2 separate regions of the Homo sapiens genome follow, and region 1 is linked to region 2. The links come from fine-mapping of genetic effects on gene expression. A gene starts in region 2. The other region holds a variant in brackets. All regions are shown on one strand. Distances are between the middles of the regions. Region 1 overlaps CAMK2A (calcium/calmodulin dependent protein kinase II alpha). Region 2 holds the start of SLC6A7 (solute carrier family 6 member 7).

The links.
Region 1: its variant is fine-mapped to the expression of SLC6A7 in subcutaneous fat (GTEx, PIP 0.94).

Annotation. Positions count from the first base shown.
Region 1 is chr5:150,215,546-150,219,926 of GRCh38, reverse strand. CAMK2A (calcium/calmodulin dependent protein kinase II alpha) reads left to right here. Exons shown (of 19, transcript NM_015981.4): 19 at 1-436. Among named protein-coding and RNA genes, the nearest start is that of SLC6A7, 28 kb to the right of the region's middle. The variant A/G (reference allele first, on the strand shown) is at 1,845.
Region 2 is chr5:150,187,910-150,192,272 of GRCh38, reverse strand. It overlaps SLC6A7 (solute carrier family 6 member 7), which reads right to left and starts at 2,211. Exons shown (of 14, transcript NM_014228.5): 1 at 1,913-2,211. The coding sequence starts at 1,945.

The DNA of each region.
Region 1 (4,381 bases), 28 kb before region 2:
TCTGTGCTCCTCCAAAACATCCTTTAGATGCAAAATAATAATAATAATAATAATAAATAAATAAATAAAAATCCAAACCCAAGTCAAAACCTTGGCTCCAGCATGAAAACACGTTTACAGGAAAGTGTTCTCCTGGGTTTGTGCCCACCATGGTGCGAATCCTGACCCAAGGCCTCCTGTCTCCCTTCAAAGGGAGACCCTTTTGGGGGATGAGTTTGCCAGACTCCCCGTGCTGGTTTCTTTGTTACTATTTGTTTGGGGTTTTGTTTTAGTTCTTTTTTTTTTTCTTTTCTTTTTTAAAAATATGTGGCTGTGAACTTGAATGAACACTGCTCAAACTTTCTGCTATTGGGGGGGGCGGGTGGGATGGGAAGAAGGGGCGTTTGTTTTATTCTTGGTGTTTTCAGTGCAATAAATAGCTACAAACTTCTGTGCACTCTGTGTGTCCCTGTCTTGGTCAAGCCCCTGAGCTGGGAGGTTTTTGTTAGTTTCCAGTTCCAGATCTGCCCCATGGCAAAATAAAAGTCCTGGTCTTCATTCTGATTGGACCAACTGTGGTCACATGCTCAAGGCTGAGCCAGTCACTGTGGGATTATGCCTGGACCACATGCCCCACCTGTAGAGCCAGGGATGGGGTCAGCTTTCTCCCAGGCACATGGGGGTACCCTCAACAAGAGCAAAGGGGTGGCTATGGGTTGCCTGAGCAGCCAAGAGCTAAAGCCTCTCTTGGGCCCTGGGGCAAGGTTCTTCTCCTCTGGGCCTCAGTTTCCCTGTACAATGTGGAGGTTATTCCACAAGTCCCCCACCCATTCTCTTCCCTCAGCCCAGCCTCACAGATGAGTGCTCAGGACTCACCATGCCAGAGAGTGCTTTAAAGAATGGGGAAGGGGAGGAAGGGTCTCTTTACCCATAAACATATGTCTGGACCTAGTGCCTGGGACACTTTGGTCCTTGGAGCCCGAGCTGCTGGCTTCTGGCAGGGCAGAGCCAAAGTGGTGATGCAGAGGCTTTGGCCACCTTCAGGCCACGGTAGAGTGGCCAACCTTCCCAGATACCTGTGTGAGATTTTCAGTGCTCAAAACAGGACAGCACCAGGCCAACCAGACAAGCTGGTCACCCATCCATTGCCCAGAGGCCTGGATGCCACGGGGCCAAGGAAAGGTGCCCATCGGAGCCCACAGTTCCCTCTAGACCATACTCCGGGTGCCTGGCACTCCAGAATCCCTGCACCAGCTGCCTTCCGGGTCTATCCTCACTGCTGGTGTGTGGAATGGCCAGGGGCAGTGTCTATAGGGAGTGTGCCCCTTGCACACAGGGGAGGACCTTCACAGTAAGAACACAGGCCAAGGCTGAGAAAAGCAAGAGAGGCTTGGGGGCTTCCATTTGCCACCTTTGCGGATGATGTTTTAAATTTGAATTAGATGCCAATAGTAAAAAATGAAGAGTTTTTTATTATTGCGGACATCACCGATGTCCTCAAGGGTTTAGTGGCAGGCGTCCTCCCAGCCCTGCCTTCACTTGCCCCAGTGGCTCCTGCCTGGCCCCTGCAGAAAGCTTTGAGGGCTTGGGTGGTCATTGTGTCCCTTCACCAGCAGGTGGCAGCACAGGAGCAGGTTTCAGGCAGTCCTTGGCCCTAGTACGTCTACCATGCCCTGTGAGATATCCTTTAACTCTCAAAAAGTACCGACTCCACTTAAAACACTATTATTATCTCACAGGAGAATGATGCTCTACAGTTCACAAAGTGCTTTCACAACACCTCTTGTCCTAGTTACAACAGTCCTATTTTGAAGATGAAAATGATGAGACTCAAAGGCAAAGAGACTTCTTGCAAGACTCTGACC[A/G]GTGCTCACCCCAGCCTTCTAACTCAGAGCACAGTGCTCTGTTCCCTCCAGGGGCCTCCCCTGCCCTGGTCGGTGCTGCCCTGTCCCTGGTCTCTGGACAGCCAGCGAGGAGTGACTGGGATTCTTAGGACCTCCTCCCCTTTTGACACTCTGTCCCCTTCCAGCTACTGTCTTCTCTCTCGGTTGTCTACACCCACAGTCTCCATACTCCAAAGGGCACTGCAGAGGGCCATTTCCCTTGCATTTTCCCACTGAGCGCACTGTGACACCTTCTCACCCTTCAGGACATGGCTCCAGCATCTTCTCTGGGAAGTTCCCTCACCCTCCCCAGCCTCCCCCGTCCCTGGGCTAGGTCCCTCCATGGGCTTCCACAATCTGCTCCACCTTCCTCACCACAGATCTCTGGTTTGAAGTCACCTAAGCAAGTTTCTGCAGAACTGTGTGCTCCTTGAAGGCAGGACAGCATCTTGTCCGTGCTCCGGATGTACGTGGCAGATACTGTCATTCTTGCATAGAGAAGACCCCTAGCAGATGTGCCCCTGGAATGAAGGAGGAGTGGAGGCTGTGTGGGCATGAGTATTCCACCCACCCAGAAATAACAACGGTTAACAGTGGGAACTGACTGAGTGCCAGGCACGCCCCACCTCTTTTATAGGTGCTCTCTCAATCTTCAGCATACCCCTCCACTGAGGGCACTACTATTCTCTTTATTCCGTTAATAAGAAGGTGCCCAGAGGAAAGGAACCCACCCAAGATGGCCCAGGGCACGAGGGAGGGAGGTGAGATTGAGGCTCTCAGCTGCTGTGAACACCTGCTTCCCACACCTGCTTCCCACACCTGCTTCCCTGGGGCATGCTGTGGCTGGGCTGGGCTCCAAGGAGGGCTCAGTGATAAGCTAGACCTGTCTCATGACTTCTGTCCCCCAAGAATCTCTGATGCCATTCCAGACAGTGAGAGACATGCAAAGAGCAAGAACTCAAGGAAGGCTGGGATGGGGGCTGGATCTGGAGGTGCAAAGTGTGCAGGAGCCCAGAGGAAGGAGAAGGAGAGATGGTGACTGGGCTGGATAAAACTTCGTGGGGTGCTTGATGGGATGGAGGCAGGGAGAGTGTGGAGGCCAGAGCAAAGGCTGGGAGCCCAGAACTGTGGCGGCAGGGTGAGCAGAACAGGCTTGGGAGGAGGCCATGGGGGCCGGAGGTGTCTAAGGGCTGAGTGAGCCCCGAATCTGCCATGATGTGGTGCCTTCTCAGGGCATGGGTTGTGCTAAATCTTTCAGGAAACATCCCCTGGCAGGTGCTGGGGGGTGTGCATAGGGCAGGGTGGGGCAGGTCCAGTCCCGTGGAAATGCCCTCTCCTTGTCCTTCCTCCTGGGACCAGCCCTGCCCTCCCTTCTCCACCCAGGGCCACCAAAGTCTCAGAGGCCACTTCCCTCAGGACGCCCTGGCCCAGCCATTCCTTCCCAGACCCAGGGCCTCAACTGGAGGTGGAGGGAGCTGGAGGGGGATGACTCCTTCCTTCCAGGAGAAAAGGGAGGACTGTCAGCATCCTCTCCCAAAGTGACCTTGGAGGAGTCACATCCCCTCTCTGGGCCTTCGTTTCCTCATATTACAATGACACTGAACCTGTGGGCCCCATATGTGAGAACTGAGCTGGCTGCTGCAGATTCACCAGGGAGTTTGCTAAACACACAGATGTTTTGGGCCCCACCCTCACAGAATAAGAGCCATTCTTCTGGGCAGGGGTCCAGGCAGCTGTAGTTTTAGTAAAAGCCCAGGTTTGGGAATTTGCATGGAGCATCCCTTCCCCCTCCCCGCATTGTCCCCACCCCGTTTCCACAGTCACAATGGCAGCCTGAAGATGCAGTTATCAGGGAGCCCCACCCCAGGCTTCCCACTTCCCTGTCCTCCCCTGACTCAGCTAGATCAATATTGACCATAGGCCCCTCCCCTGCCTCTAAGTCCTACCACCCTAAGCCCCAAAGCTCTCTGAGACCCTGACCTCGGATCAGCAGAATCAAGGTCAAGCCAGGCTTGGGACTGTGATGATTTTATTGCTGTGCCCACGCTCACCCTGTATCCCCCTACTCCTAGTGATTGGGCAGGGCATTTGGCTCACTGGAAAAACCTTCAGGGCTCTGAATCCTTAAACTCATTCTGCAAGAGAACTGAGACTTCCTTCCTACTAGGCAGAGCCAATCCCAATCCATCTCCGAAGAGGGGTGCTGCTCCCCTCCCTAGCTCCCGTGGCATGGTCCCCAGCAGAAGGCTGCATGGAGTGGGTGGGAGCAGAGAGCTCCCTTTTCCTCACCTCCCTCCACCAAGGCACCTCTGCAGAGCCCTCTGTCCTTGTTCAACCCACTTGTTTTATAGATGGGGACACTGAGGCTGGGTCCTCAGGGCACACAGATGGTGCTGGCAAGCCTGGGCCTCCAGTTTAGCCTGTCCCTGGCTCCAGGCACACCAACTCCCAGCCTCTTTCTCCCCAGGCTGGTTGGAGGTGGGAGCTGAGCCTCAGTTTCCTTATCTGTACAAGGGAGA
Region 2 (4,363 bases):
ATCATTGTGCAGATTAGGAAACCAAGTTTCAGGAAGAAGGGATGAGCCCAAGGTCAAACAGCAAGTTAAAGGCACAGCAAGACTTGGACCTAGATCCCCTGACTCTAAGTCCAGTGTTCATCTCTGAGCAATGCTGCTCCTTTGCGGAAATCTGGCATTTTCTCATTCCCGCCCAATTCTGCTTGAGAAAAGGGAAAGGACCCTGAGAGGAGGTAGCAACCTAGAACCAACCCTCTGCCCTGTTGGCTCTAGGTTGCCTAGCCTGCCAGCAGGTAAGCAGTGAGTCTCACCCCTCTGTGCCTCAGTTGCCTTATTTATAAAGTGGGGCTACTAAGACCTAGCCCCTGGAAGTGTTAAAGGATTAAATGAGATAAAGCTTGCTAACCCCCCAGCCCAGCACCCAGCAAGAGGGACAGGGCCTCTTGTGGGGAGGGAGGGCAGAGAGGGAAGAGAAGGAGAGTGGAAAAGAATGGAAACAGGACCCAAGAGACTCACAAATGGTCTCAAGAAGTCACTCATGTCAGTGAATAAAAAAGACATACCAGCTGGGCGCAGTGACTCACACCTGTAATCCCAGCACTTTGGGAGGCCGAGGCGGGCGGATCACGAGGTCAGAAGATCAAGACCATCCTGGCTAACACGGTGAAACCCCGTCTCTACTAAAAATACAAAACATTAGCCAGGCGTGGTGGCGGGCGCCTATAGTCCCAGCTACTCGGGAGGCTGAGGCAGGAGAATGGCGTGAACCCGGGAGGCAGAGCTTGCAGTGAGCCGAGATCACACCACTGCACTCCAACCTGGGTGACAGAGCGAGACTCCGTCTCAAAAAAAAAAAACAAGAAAAAGAAAAAAGACACACCACAGTGGTTCCAAGCCCAGCTGCCCCAGAGCAGAGAACTTGAATGAATGAGTGTGTGTGTGAGTGAGTGTGAGTGTGAATGTGTGTGTATGTAGGGAGGTTGATAACACCAGCCCCTGAGAACAGTCTTCTCACATCTACCAGCCCTTTAGCATTCTTCCCCACACCTCACACACCCAGTGGGGCCTGTTTTGGTGCCTCCAGGCTAGGGCTTAGCCAGAGGAGGTTCAGGTTAGAGAATGAACTTGTCCAAAGTCACCAGGCAAGTGGCAGCGGCAGAAATAGTATTCAGGAGATCTGACTCCTTAGTTAGGACTGGTACAAGCCAGAAAACGTCCCCCAGTATTCCCCCTCCCCATATCCTGACAGCTTGGCTGAGAGGTCCAATCCCACAAGGCAAGGTAGGGAGAGCCTGAGGTCTGGGCCCACAGCCACTCTCCCATACCAGCTTCCATCTTCATTGATCATATCCTCCTGCCTCCGATAGCCCCCTCCCTGTCTTTGCCTCCCTTCAGCCCTGCTGAGGGGCAGCCTGGGGTCTCAGCAGGCAAGCTAAGGGGGCGGGGAGGGAGCAGGCAGGAAAGAGGAGAGTCTTCCCGCAGGCTCAGGGAGCCGGCTTCAGTATGGATGACCGCCTCCCACTCCCCACCCCTCAGATGAGTCCAGCTCAACGCTCAGGTATTCCAATACCCCCCACACCCGGCAATCAGCTCCTGGCGGGGAGCAGCAGGGTGGAATTGGGGAAGAGGTGGGTGCCTGGCCCCGGCCGCCCCTACCCCGCGCCTCCGGGGACTGCAGACACCTGTTCATAGGCCTGGCCCAGTGAACCAGGACTCCCCTCATACTACATCCCGAACCCCAGATGGCAGGGGCAGAGGTGGGGGCGCAGACCGTGACCCTGACCCTCCCTGTTATCCAGCTGAGTCGGGCCTTCCCCAGAGCCCGAAGCTGGTCTGGGTGCATCCTCAGACCTTCCCCAGGGGCCTCGTTGGGGGCGGGTCTCTCCAACCCTCCTCCAGGTGCACCCCCAGCGCCCCCGCCCTCGTGCCCTACCTTGCGGAGGTGAGCTCCCTGGAGCTTCTTCATCTTGGAGAGCGGGTGGCCGGGGCTCAGCTGCCCCGGAGCGCAGAGAGCGAGGGCACGAGAGATGGTCCGCTGGCCACTGCGCCTTTGCCCCCGCGGCTCCCGCGCACCGGCTGGGGCGGGCACGGACGCAGGCGCTGCCGTCTGGCGGCTGCGGGCGTGGAGCGCGGGCAGGGCGCTGCGAATGCCTTGTCTGTCCCTGCGCAGCGCCCGAGGCTGGGGAAGGGTGCACTGCTGCGCCCGCATAGACACCCAGACAGACAGCTGACGGACGGACGGCGGGGGGATGCGCGCGCCCCCGCACGCAGAGCTGCGGATTGGAGAGCCCTGAGCGAGTGGGGAGGGGGGTTCGCGACGGAAACCCTCGGCTTTCTGCGTGACCTTGGGCAAGCGACCTGCCCTCTCTGGGACTCCCTTTCCACAGTTGGGCAAGGAACACTAACAGCCCACCCCCCTGCGTCGTCTTTGCTGTGCGACCTTAGGGGATAAGAATCTCTCCTCTCTTACAGGAGTGTGAGCAATTCAGGAAGATGGAGCATAGAAAACATCTAGCACAAAGAGCCTGACACATAGTAGGTGCTCAGTTAACATTTATTCACTGACTGTGGGTTGCCCACGCCACCATTAGTCCAATTATTCAATCTATCAGTATTTATTGAGCACCTAAAATGTGCCAGGTCCTGAACTAGGTGTCCTATTTTCTCAACCTGGAGAGACAGGTGTCGTTACTCCTATTCTACAGATGAGGAAGCTGAGGGACAGGGAAGTTAAGTTACTTACTCAAAGTCACGGGGCTAATGAGTGACACCAGGGACAGAGTCAGGCTTCATGGACCTTTAGGCTAGTAGAGTCTTCAACTCTCCTCCTTTCCTTAAGATGAAAGCAAAATGGGGAGGTTTGGGTGAGCAGAAGGGACAGGCAAGTGCCACAGTGTCACTGTGATCTGTGACTTAGATGATTAGTAACTGGTTTCCTGTCCAGCAGCAGTATGGCTTCTGGAAAGTTCTAATTTCATATCTGTAAAATGGGCCACGAGCCGCCCATGCATTGTTGCCTCAGAATGTTCTGAGGGTCCAGTGAGCCTGTGGCTAGGATGGGAAATGATGAGCTGGAGCAATGGCACACGTTGGTTTGCTGGGACTGACTGATAGACACTAGCGGATCAGTATATACATTACAAATTGTGTCCTTTTCACCCTCGCAAGTGTCCCAGTTTAGACATTAACCATACATCTGTTTGGCTCACTATCAGTTGACACGGTGGGAGGCCTTTGGGGAGAGATGAGAATAAGGTTCTGCTCTCTCCCACCTCTGGAGCTTGAAAAAAGGTTGGAGGGGTTTAAGTCAAAGCATGGACTTGGGTAAAGGCCTGGCCAGGCTCCAGTCCACCCCTTCCCCTGCCCAGGTCCTGTCAAACTTCTCTCCCCTTTGAGCCTGGCCACAAAGGGCAAACCAGGGGCTCTCCAGACCCAGGAGGAAGGTGTCTCCTCTGCCCCCTGCCTGCTGACCCATATGGGGCCAAGAGTGGCTGTGAGTGTGAAGAGAAGGAGCATTTATGGAGCCCTACTGTGTGCATTATGAAGGATTTTTGCATCCAACATCTAATTTTTAATTCTTTCCAACTGTCTGGGAAGACATGTTTGTGCATCTCATTTTACACCTGTGGAAACTGTCCCAGAGGAGTGAAGTCATGCACTGGGCGTTGGGGATGAAGCCAGGAAAGCTGTGGGTCATGGCTGGGAAAGGCAGAAGCCAAGGGCTCCTGAATCCAAGGAGGCCCAGGCAGGAAACTTCCCCATCCCTCACCCAAGGCTTGTCAATGCATCTTGTACAAAAGAGGCTCAACCTTGCTCAACCACTCCCTCCCATTGGCACTTGGGTTTCATGAGACCCTTTGGAAGGCACAGAGGGCCACAGGGACAGCGAGCAGGGATGAGGCAGTTGGCTCAGGAGCCAAGAAGACTGGCCTCTTTATGACCCTTCCTAGCAGCACCTGCTCCTCCCACTTCACGGACCCAGCCCTGGGGGAGAAGAAGGGAGTGGACCAGGGCTTTAGCTTCCCTTGAGCAGACACATCAGGGGGTGACCACTGAGCCACTGTGGCAGTCACTGGGACTGTGAGGTGCAAATGGATCTAGGCCCATGCCTTTCAGATAGGGAAACTGAGACCCAGAGGGGCAGGATTTGCAAAATCACTCAGTGATTCAGTAAAGACAGGATCATGTCTATAACCTAGGAGTCTGACCTCACCCAGGCTCTGCCCTCTAGCTCATACCTCTCTGCCACCATCACCTCCATCCCCACAGCCCTGGTGGGGAAAGTCTGCCCTTTCATAAAACAAACAAAACTCAAAGATTTTCTTTTCTTTATTTTTTTGAGAGAGATCTTGCTCTATTACCCAGGTTGATGTGCAGTGGCTCC